Linked DNA regions of Homo sapiens: region 2 is linked to region 1. The links come from fine-mapping of genetic effects on gene expression. A gene starts in region 1. The other region holds a variant in brackets. All regions are shown on one strand. Distances are from middle to middle. Region 1 holds the start of CRYBB3 (crystallin beta B3). Region 2 overlaps KIAA1671.

Evidence for each region. PIP is the estimated chance that this variant, and not a neighbour inherited with it, causes the effect.
Region 2: its variant is fine-mapped to the expression of CRYBB3 in thyroid (GTEx, PIP above 0.99).

Annotation. Positions count from the first base shown.
Region 1 is chr22:25,197,138-25,202,507 of GRCh38, forward strand. CRYBB3 (crystallin beta B3) reads left to right here and starts at 2,721. Exons shown (of 6, transcript NM_004076.5): 1 at 2,721-2,772; 2 at 4,240-4,334. The coding sequence starts at 4,260. It overlaps KIAA1671, which reads left to right. Exons shown (of 13, transcript NM_001145206.2): 13 at 1-311.
Region 2 is chr22:25,041,366-25,046,735 of GRCh38, forward strand. It overlaps KIAA1671, which reads left to right. Exons shown (of 13, transcript NM_001145206.2): 5 at 1-160. Among named protein-coding and RNA genes, the nearest start is that of KIAA1671-AS1, 69 kb to the right of the region's middle. The variant T/C (reference allele first, on the strand shown) is at 3,060.

The DNA.
Region 1 (5,370 bases):
TGAACGGAAGGCAGACGAGAGGCACTTTATCCAGTCCCAGAAAGAATCTCTAACCGTGTGACTGAGAAGTCATCTAGAAAAACTTATATTTTTAATGTAAAAACAAATGGGGCTTACCAGACCTCACAGAGTATTGGACGTCTACAAGTGCTTTTATATTTTGTAACTGTAAAGAAGTTTCATATGCACAGAAGAGCAGTTGGAAATCTGGTCGACTGCAATAAAACAAGATGACCTTTGCATGTACAAAGATGTTGCATTCAGACTATGAAAATAGCAAATAAAGCTTTGGTGCAAGTTGCATTGGAGAAGTCGGTGCGTCCATGTGTGAATGAATAGAGTCTCCCATGCATGCAGGCCCTGACTGGGGCTGGCTGAGTCAGTCTGTCCTGTGCTGAGCTGTGGGCCAGCCAGCGAGAGGGCAGAGCTGGGGTCCTGGGAGAGGGTGTCCATGCAGAATGGGAGGCCATGGAAACAAGGCAGGATTTCCATTCAGACTGACAAGGGGTTGAGTCCTCCTCCTGCCACCCTCTGGCTGTGGGATTTCTTTTAAACATTGGTTCTCCTTAGCTATACAATGGGAGTGGTGATCAGGACATTTTTGCAGGTAACAGTTTAAGGTGGTGGTTCTCAGCTGGGTGGATTGTGCCCTCCAGAGCATGTCTGGTAATGAAAGGAGGCATTATTGGTTATCACAAGAAGGAGAGAAGATGCTCCAGGAAGTGAGTAGAGGCCAGGGATGCTGCTCAGCATCCTGCAGTGCACAGGACAGCTCCCACCCCGACCCCACCACAAAGAATGACCCGACCCCAAATGGCAGTAGTGTCAAGGTTGAAAAGTCTAGATTGGGGAGATGTGGTACATCAAAGTGCTGAGCGTGCAGTAGGTCTGCAAGGTCCTCAAAGATGTGATGGGAGGGGGAGCCACGCCATCCCCACCTCTGCCTTCCTCCTTCTGTCCCAGCTGGTGGCAACTACATCCCAACTCAGGGGGTCCAAACCGACTGCTTTCTGTGACCTTCAGCAGGAAGTAGCCCCTTGGCTTGAACTGTCCAGAGTAGGCAGGATGCTGGGAATAAAAGTCAAAAATAACAGATACTGTGCGCAGTGCTTTGCTTGCATGACCTCCCAAAATGGCCCAAGTGGAGAGAAGGTTCTCCATTTATGGTGAGGAGACAGTAGCTCTGAGACCTTCAGGAACTCGTCCAAGGTCACACACATCTGCCTGACTCAGAGTCCAGCTGTCATCCACAGCATCTCACCACCATCTCCCTCTAGGGGGTACAGGGTAACTGTGTTTTTGTTTGTTTGTTTGTTTTTTGAGACGGAGTCTTGCTCTGTTGCCCAGGCTGGAGTGCAGTGGTGCGATCTCAGCTCACTGCAAGCTCTGCCTCCTGGGTTCACACCATTCTCCTGCCTCAGCCTCCCATGTAGCTGGGACTACAGGCACCCGCCACCACACCTGGCTAATTTTTTGTGTTTTTAGTAGAGACAGGGTTTCACCGTGTTAGCCAGGATGGTCTCGAGCTCCTGACTTCGTGATCCGCCTGCCTCGGCCTCCCAGAGTGTTGGGATTACAGGCGTGAGCCACCGCGCCCGGCCTGTAACTGGGTTTTATGCTGACTTGAGGATTTTAGCCAAAAACAAATACCAACAACAACAAAAGAAAACCTTGTTAACTCACTCCTTTGCTCCAATATAATTTTATTCATAAAATAATCACTTATTAGATATTGATTACAGGCAAAATTATACTTTGTTAGACACTTAAAAAATTCCTGGAAGCTGGGTGCAGTGGCACGTGCCTGTAGTTCCGGTTATTCAGGACACTGAGGAGAAAGGATTGCTTGAGCCCAGGAGTTTGAGTCCAGCCTGGGCAATGTAGCAACAACCTATCTCTAAAAAATAAAATAAAAATACCTGGATCTACCTTTTTTCTTTGGTCATAAATAAGTTGACTGTGATGGTCACTTTTATTTCTATTGAGGCTAAGATCCCAGGTCCTGGAGCAGGCCAGCCCCTTCTCTCTGCTGTGTGATTCTGAGTAAATGGGTTCACCTCTCTGAACTCAGTTTCTCCATGTATAAAGTGGAATCAGAATTCCTCCCCTAAGGATGGCTGGATGAGAATTCCATACAATGCTTGTGAAGCTGGCACAATGCCTTGCGTGTAGTAGGTGTTCAAGAAATGGTAGCTATTATTCGTGCGTGTCTTCTACATGAAGAAAGTCAGTCTGTGAGTTCTGTGACGGCATCCTATGGAAACGGTTGGGTGGATTTGCGCCCAAGTTGGAGAGTATGGTTAGCGTGATCTGACTTAAAACTTAGGCCACATGGCACATGGAAACTGGAGAGTGTCTGGGGTCCCTCACTTTAAGAACTAGAATTTTTCCAAAGGTTGCGTGTGACTCAATAGGAAATGGTGACCCCAAGAAACCAAAGAAAGGGAGTTGGTGGTTGTGGGGAGACACGGGAGAGCTGCACACCGTGCCCCTTGCCTGGCGCTGCTGGGCTTCCCACAAAGCCAGTGAGGTTCATCTGTCCCCAGGAAGTCATCAGAGACGGTGGCTGAGGAGACAGGCACTGGGGGCCTCCGTGGACCCGCTATTGGAGTGAAGTGGCCTGGATGGAATTGGGTGGACAGGGTGCTGCCTCAGCAGGCTGGGATGTGCTGGGCTGTCAGAAAGTGCTCATAAATAGCATGCCCCTTGCGAAGACAGGCGAGTCTGCAGACGGCCGTGGCTCCTCTGTTCTTCCCGAGGCTACAGCAACAGGTTCATTCTGGGATGGGTTGGGGGTGGGGAGGCAAAAGCCACCCTGGCAGGCCCGGACCTTTTGTAGTTTCTGTGGGACGCGCATGGCTGACCGCCTGCAAAGAAAAACAGCGCCTCCCTTAAGGGTCAGGTCCCAGTGAGAGGACCCTGACAGCCCAGCTGGGGGTGGAACGAGGGACCCTTGTCTGCAGTGGCCAGGGTCCAAGCCCCTGGACATGTGCTTAGGGCAGGGGACCTTCCAAAACAGCTCCTCTGAGGGAGGGGAGTGGGCACACATGGTACCTGCCAAGTCCCCCGAGAGTCCCCTGTGAGCTGGACCAAGCCCTGTTTCCTGCTGAGGCTAGGAGAGACAGAACCGACAGCCCGCAGGCTGTGCATGGTTAGGCCCACATCCAGAGTATGTGGGCTGTGCAGCTGTGCATGCTGGGGTGGCCGTGCTGGGAGCCGTGGGTGGGTAACAGTTGGATGTGGGGTGTAGATGTAGGTGCCTTGTTTACCACTGTGGATGTCTGAAATGGGCAGGGATGTGTGTGTGTGAGGAGAGAGAGAGAGAGAGAGAAAGAAGCTGTCCTGTGAGCCCATGGGTGAAATATAACTGATAGTGACCATAGAAACTTTTGCGAGTGTGTGCACCTATGTGTGTGTGCTGACAAACAGAACAGTCCTGTGTGTGTCCATGGGTGCAACAATGATGAGAATCCTTCCATGTGACTGCGGCAGGGGCCTGTATTGCGTGTCACTGTCCCTGTAGCAATGAAGAACTGTCGGTGTCTGGGTCTTGAAGTGGCTGGTACACAGTCGTGTTCAATAAATGCTTAAGGAATGAGTAACCGAACGCAGGGAAACTGACCTGGAGCAGGTGTCCAACGACCTGGTCTTACAAGCCTTTTCTCTAGAGGTCTGTCTGTCCACCTCCCGACATATGGGGTCTCCTGTCCCTCCTGGTCACCCAGCCCAGAGCCTGGCACTGTGTAGGTGCTCATGGAATATTTGTTGAATAAAGTAACCAGTGAACAAAAGAGTTCCTGGAGTACGGAGGTGGGAGAGACCCCTGTAGAGGAAACTCCCTGAAGCCCACCCTTTAGCCAGGTTCTGGGGGTGGGACATCTGCAGAGAGCTCTGAGAAACCTGGGTTTCGGGGAGCATCTGGATCAGGGGAAAAGGGCACGGGCTTTGGAGCCAGGCCCGACCCAGGCCACTTCCTCACTGTGTGCTTGAGGAAGTGGCCTCACTTTGCTGAGCCTCAGAGTTCCCCTCTGTACAATGGGGCTCCTGATCCCACTGTCTCAGTCCACGTGGCCCATGGCAGGTGCTCAATGGATGTTTGCTGAATGACTGAATGTCGATCATAAGTTACAGCCACGCCCCATGGGCAGCAAGGCTCTGTAGCTCATCCTGGACTCCAGTCACATCAACACCTGGCTTCTCCCGGGTGGATCCAGTGAACCATTTTCTTTTGGTTTGAAGCCAGAGGTGTTCCTGGGGAGATGGCGGAACAGCACGGAGCACCCGAACAGGCTGCAGCTGGCAAGAGCCATGGAGACCTTGGGGGCAGCTACAAGGTACTGGGCAGGGAGGGGGTCAGAGGGCCCAGGCTACTCCTGGGCCTCAGGGTCATCTTCCCAGCCAAGCAGCACCTCTGCAGGAAGGAAGAGCCATCCTTCCAACCACCCAGGCCAGGACAAAACGCTCCGGGTGGGTCCTCTCACTGCCACCCTCCCGTTAGAAACTTGCTTCATGACTTTGCTGCATCTTCCCTCGTCTGCAAAACAGAAATGGTCACCCACATCCTGCCTGCACCAATGGATCAGAGAGGCCCGGGGGTTTCTGGAAACGGCTCTGAGCTCTGACTCTCCTGTCTGACCTCAGCCTGGTGTCTTGCCCACTCTGGGGAAAAGGGCACAGGGTTTGGAGGCTCTCTGGGCCTCAACAGCCCCATGTTTGAAATGAGGATGGTGCCCAGATATTGTGCCCAGAGTTGGTGTAAAGGCTGAAAGACATGAGTGAAGCCAGCTAGCAGAGGGAGGCACACTAGAAATCTGAGAGAAGGTTTGAATGTGTTGGCTCTGCCCTTTCCAAACCATCTCCGGGGTCTTTTTGGGAAACTATTCCAGACAGAGTCTAAGGATGGGTCGAATCCCAGTGCCTCCTCTTAACTTGCTGTGCAGCCCGAGGCAAGTATCTTACCCTTTCTGAGCTTCTTTGATCCCTTCTGTAAAATGACTAGAACAGATGTTCCCTGGGGATCTTCTACAAAGTCAGTTTGTGTTTCCAGGTGGGTGAGAGAGGCAAAACCTTGGTCTGCCTTTGCAGCCCTTCTCTTCCTAGGCTTGGGGCAGGCAGAGGTCTTCCCCGAGACTGCAAACAGGTGTTTTCATTTTTTTAAGGGGGAAATTTCCTATTAAGGAAAATACAGATTTCTGACCTCTCTTGAAAAAATTGGAACTGGGACCTCATTCCCTCATCGCCAGAAGCAGCTTCATTTCCCCACCGACCTCTCGGGTTATTTCAGTCCGCTGGACTCCCCACCTGGCTCCTGCTGGACATCAGAGTTGCAATCACTAGTTTAATTGGTCTCATTGAAGTTCCTGAAGGCGT
Region 2 (5,370 bases), 160 kb before region 1:
GGGGCCCCCTGCCAACATCCGAGAGGGCCTGTCCATCATGCATGAAGCCAGAGAGAGGAGGCGAGAGCAGCCCAAAGGGAGGCCCAGCCTTACTGGAGAGAATTTGGAGGCCAAAATGGGACCCTGTTGGTGGGAGTCAGGGACTGGAGACAGTCACAAGGTAAGTACCGAGACACTTTTTAATTTTGTCAAACATGGTTTAAACATCTAGTCTAGGGGGCCGAAACTCAGATTTTGTGTGGCCCACTTTGGGTACATAAATGAGTGGAGTCAGGCTGGGTATGAGGCTCCAGGGAGGGGTATGGATTGTGGCAAATGGAGAGCTCATGCCCTATCTGAACTGGACAACTGCTGCTTGGTCCCACCTGGTTCTTTGTTTGTTTATTTGTTTGTTTGAAACAAAGAGTCTTGCTTAGTTGCCCAGGCTGGAGTGCAGTGGCATGATCATGGCTCACTGCAGCCATAATCTCCTGGGCTCAAGCCATCCTCCCGCCTCAGCCTCCCAAATAGCTGGGATGACAGGCATGCGCCACCATGCTTGGCTAATTTTTTATTTTTTGTAGAGACAGGGTTTTGCCATGTTGCCCAGGCTGGTCTCAAACTCCTGGGCTCAAGTGATCCTCCTGCCTCGGCCTCCCAAAGTGCTGGGATGACAGGCGTGTGCCACCATGCCTGGCCCAGCTGGTTCTTCACAGGCAGGAATGCTGGCCTTGAGATGGCAAACCTCATTTATCAAGAGAATCTGAAAATCTAGATTTTTATGTGTAATCCTCCCATTAGGAAATGAGGAGGACTTATTTTTAAAAATGCTGTTCAGCCCAAACAAGACTTGTCTGCTAGCCCCATGCAGCGCGCCGGCCACCTGTTTTACACTTCTGTCCTACAATGACGATAATGATAGATATCAATGGTAGCTTTATTGTGCTCCTGCTGTATAATAGCCTGTTGTATCCTGTTCATTATTATGTCCCCAGAATCCAGCATCATGCTTGACATACTGTGAATGTTCAAGAAGTATTTGTTGAATGAGTGAACAAGTGATCTTACGTGAGCCTCAAAAGAGGGATCACCATGGTTTTGGGTTCCAGCAGTCCCTTGTTTTTTTTTTTTTTTTTTTTTGAGACGGAGTCTCACACTGTCACCTGGGCTGGAATACAATGGTGTGATCTTGGCTCACTGCAACCTTCGCCTCCTGGGTTTAAGCGATTCTCCTGCCTCAGCCTCCCAAGTAGCTGGGATTACAGGAGCCCGCCATCATACCCGGCTAATTTTTTGTATTTTTTTTTTTTAGTAGAGACGGGGTTTCACTATTTTGGCCAGGCCGGTCTTGAACTCCTGACCTCGTGATCCGCCCACCTTGACCTCCCAAAGTGCTGGGATTACAGGCGCGAGCCACTGCGCCCGGCCTGTAAGCACTTTTTAAGGGGGTGATCCCAGGAAGAACCAGTAGGGGAGAGAAGAAGTGAGGCAGGTGCTACAGGGGCCATGGTTGGCCACAGAGGCACATCTCACTGGGGACCCCGGGAGGCAGCATGGAACACCTCTGAAGTTGTCATGTCCAGGGGTCAAGGGACCTGGAGTATGTATTTTCCAATCCCTCTGTCCTTGCCTGAGGCTGTTTGTGGGGTCATGAACATTCAGACTTTTCCATCCTGGCTGGCACCATGCACAGCAGAAGAAAGAAAATCTGGCTTCCTTTGTTCAGTGAAGAACAGAGAGAAAGAGAAGAATGGATGGCAGGGTGGGGGGTGGGGAGGAAAGGAGGAAGGGATCACTTTAATTACAAGCACACCCTTTTGGGGGTACATAAGCAGAATAGCTGTGAAGAAACCCTCACCCAAATAAGCCACTTTGTTTTTAACACACACACACAAATTCAAATCTACCCAAATATCTATCAGTGAGGCTCTAGGGTGTTGGCAGAGGGCCCCTTCTCTTGATCTTTGGCATATACCTGAGTGTTGGGCAGAGTGCTGACACTACCTACTGCTGTGTGATCATCTTCCTGTACAGATGGGGGGAAAAAAACAGAGGCTCAGAGAGGTGAAATAACTTGTCCCAGGTCACACAGCAGTAAGTAACAAAACTGGTATTTGAACCCAAATCTGGCCTTAATTACCCAACTGGGCCATATTCTAGGAGACCATTCTGGTGAAGAACCACGAAGGTGGGGAAGAAATCTGAGGCATAAGGACCACCCTTTGAAGCTTCTGATCTCTGTGGGGAGATGGGCCATTGTGATCCAAGACTGGGGAGTGATGGGGTGCAGAGGGAGGCACTGGAGAGGTGGCCCAAGGTGTCCTGGAGGAGTCGGTGGTCTCAGCCCAAGCTTGAGGGTTGGCCATGCTTTTGGGTGGGCTGATGAGGGGAGGTGAGGGCATTCTCAGCAGGGCACAGCATGGACAAAGGTTTGGAGGTGGGAAGAGCGTAGAATGTTGTGGGGGACATGTGGAAATGGACTTAGCACCGCCCTGTGTGATGTGGCATCAGCAAATCAGGCCACAGATTCTTCCTTTGCCACTTGCAGCTGAGTGATACAGGGCAAAACCTTTCACCTCCCTGCACCCGAGTTTTCTTGTCTGTAAAAGGGACTAGGTGGCCAGTCTGGAAGTGGATGCTGCAGAAAGGAAACTCTAGGATACAGTCAGTAATGATCATGCGGTGAGGATTTGCCTTCAGTTAAGAGTGGGTAAGTGATGGAGTCAGGCTTTGAACCCATGTCTGTTCCCAAGAGGCCAAGCTCTCCAACCACCATGTGCAGGATCACGCAGACTTGGCATCTGAATCTCCACGCTGCTACTTGCCTGCTGTGTGTAAAGCAGCCTCTTGGCCTCTCCTGGCCTCAGTTGCCATGCCAGAGTTAACAGGGATTCCTGCCCCAAAGCACTGTTATTAGACTGAATTGAAATAAAGCACCGAACTTGGGCCATCCCCGTGTGCTTCCTGAGAAGGGTTTCATCTGTCCCTACCTGCAGGCTGATGTTGTGGTAACAGTGGAAGAAGGAAGAGGCCAAGGAAATGCGACACTTATGTTTGCCAGCACCTTGCTCAGGGCCCGC[T/C]GGTGGTGGGGGAGTCGGGATGTTGTGGAGGGGGGATCCTGGGCTCAGCTCTGTCCCGCAGCCCAGCCTTGGATGCCTGCCTGGAGCACGCAGGCCCCAGCAGTGCTGGTTGTCAGGGGATCTGTTTTCTCACCACGGGATTGGGAAGCCTTGGACCAGCTTCCCGTTTCTCTCTTGTCTCCTGCCAAAAGATCTTTGGTTCTTTGATCTTAAAAAAAAAAATAAAAACACACCAATACAGAAGGAAAAAATGTTGGTTGTTAAAATTTTGAACCTTACAGGGGTATAGAAAATAAAAGGTGAGTGTTCCCCCAGAGGCAGCCACCATTACATTGTTTATGTCCTTTCGGACTTTCCTATATTGACAGTCACTTATCAATCATATATATATGCATAATTGTCATGCTTTTCATATTGCAACAGTAGCGAATGCTTGCGTAAAATGTGAAATACTGGCTGGGCACGGTGGCTCATGCCTGTAATCCCAGCACTTTGGGAGGCCGAGGCGGGTGGATCACGAGGTCAGGAGATTGAGACCATCCTGGCTAACACGGTGAAACCCTGTCTCTACTAAAACTACAAAAAAATTAGCCGGGCACAGTGGCGGGCGCCTGTAGTCCCAGCTACTCCGGAGGCTGAGGCAGGAGAATGGCGTGAACCCGGGAGGCGGAGCTTTCAGTGAGCCAAGATCACGCCACTGCACTCCAGCCTGGGCGACAGAGAGAGACTCCGTCTCAAAGAAAAAAAAAAATTTTGAAATACTATAGAAAAATGGTGTAGAGAGAAAATCTCCTTTAAATATTGAGCGTGGTGCATAAACTGGGGAACACCCCTCTAGGCCCATTAGTGGTTTTTAACTATGGGCAATTTTGCCCCTGGGGCACATTTGGCAGTGTCTGGAGACATATTTTGTTGTTGTCACACCCTGGGAAGAGGTTGCTATTAGCGTCTCATGGGTAGAAGCCAAGCATGCTGCCCAACATCCTACAAGGCACAAGACAGCCCCCACTGCAAAGAATGCTCCAGCCCCAAGTGTTTGCAGTTTGTAGGTTGAGGAACCCTGGTCTAGACACAGACATAGATAAAGGTAAATGCATAGACTTAGATATAGGTAAATACATAAGCTTTCTATGGAAAACTACAACAGTCTATAGAAAATCTTGTGGCTTACTTTTGTTTTTTGAGATGGAGTTTTGCTCTTGTGGCCCAGGCTGGAGTGCAGTGGCAGGATCTTGGCTCACTGCAACCCCCGCCTCCCGGGTTCAAGTGATTCTCCTGCCTCAGCCTCCTGAGTAGCTGGGACTACAGGTGCACACCACCATTCCTGGCTAATTTTTTGTATTTTTAGTAGAGATGGGGTTTCACCATGTTAACCAGGCTGGTTTTGAACTCCTGGCCTCAAGCAGTCTACCTGTCTTGGCCTCCCAAACTGCTAGAATTACAGGCGTGAGCCACTGCACCCGGCCTCCCCTTCCTCTTTTTAATGGTTGCGAAGTATTGTATTATGTGACTGAGCCCAATCTATTTTAACCTAGACTCTCATTGATGGGTATTTGGGTGGATTTGAATTTTTGTGTGTGTTAGAAACAGGGTTGTGCCGGGTGCAGTGGCTCACATCTGTAATCCCAACACTTTGGGAGGCCGAGGCTGGCAGATCACTTGAGGTCAGGAGTTTGAGACCAGCCTGGCCAACATGGTGAAACTCCATCTCTACTAAAAATACAAAAATTAGCCGGGCTTGGTGGCGGGTGCCTGTAGACCCAGCTACTTAGGAGGCTGAGGCAGGAGAATTGCTTGAACCCAGGAAGCGGAGATTGTAGTGAGCGGAGATCGTGCCACTGCACTCCAGCTTGGGCAACAGAGCGAGACTCTGTCTCAAGAGAAAAAAAAAGAAGAAGAAAAAGAAACAAGGTTGGTTCCTTGGGTGAGGGTTTCTTGATTTACAGCCCAAAAGGGTGTGATGGTCATTAAAGTGATTCCTTCCTCTCTCCATCCCTTCCTCTCTCCATCCCTTCCTCTCTTTTTCTCTGTTCTTCACTTAACAGACATTTATAGAAACTGTTTCCCAGACCCAACAGTATTTCATTTATTTAAATTATTTATTTTAGTTTTAAGAGAGAGACGATTTCACATGGCTCCACTCCAAAAATACTTAAAAAACATTCCCCTGATACCTGCCATGCTTACATTTCTTCCACCCGGTAATCACTTTTATTCCTTTTTTTTAAATTCCTTTTTTTCTTTTGAGGCTTCTTTATGAAAATACAAGCACATAGAAATACATATTTTTATTTTTGCTTCACTTTTCCAT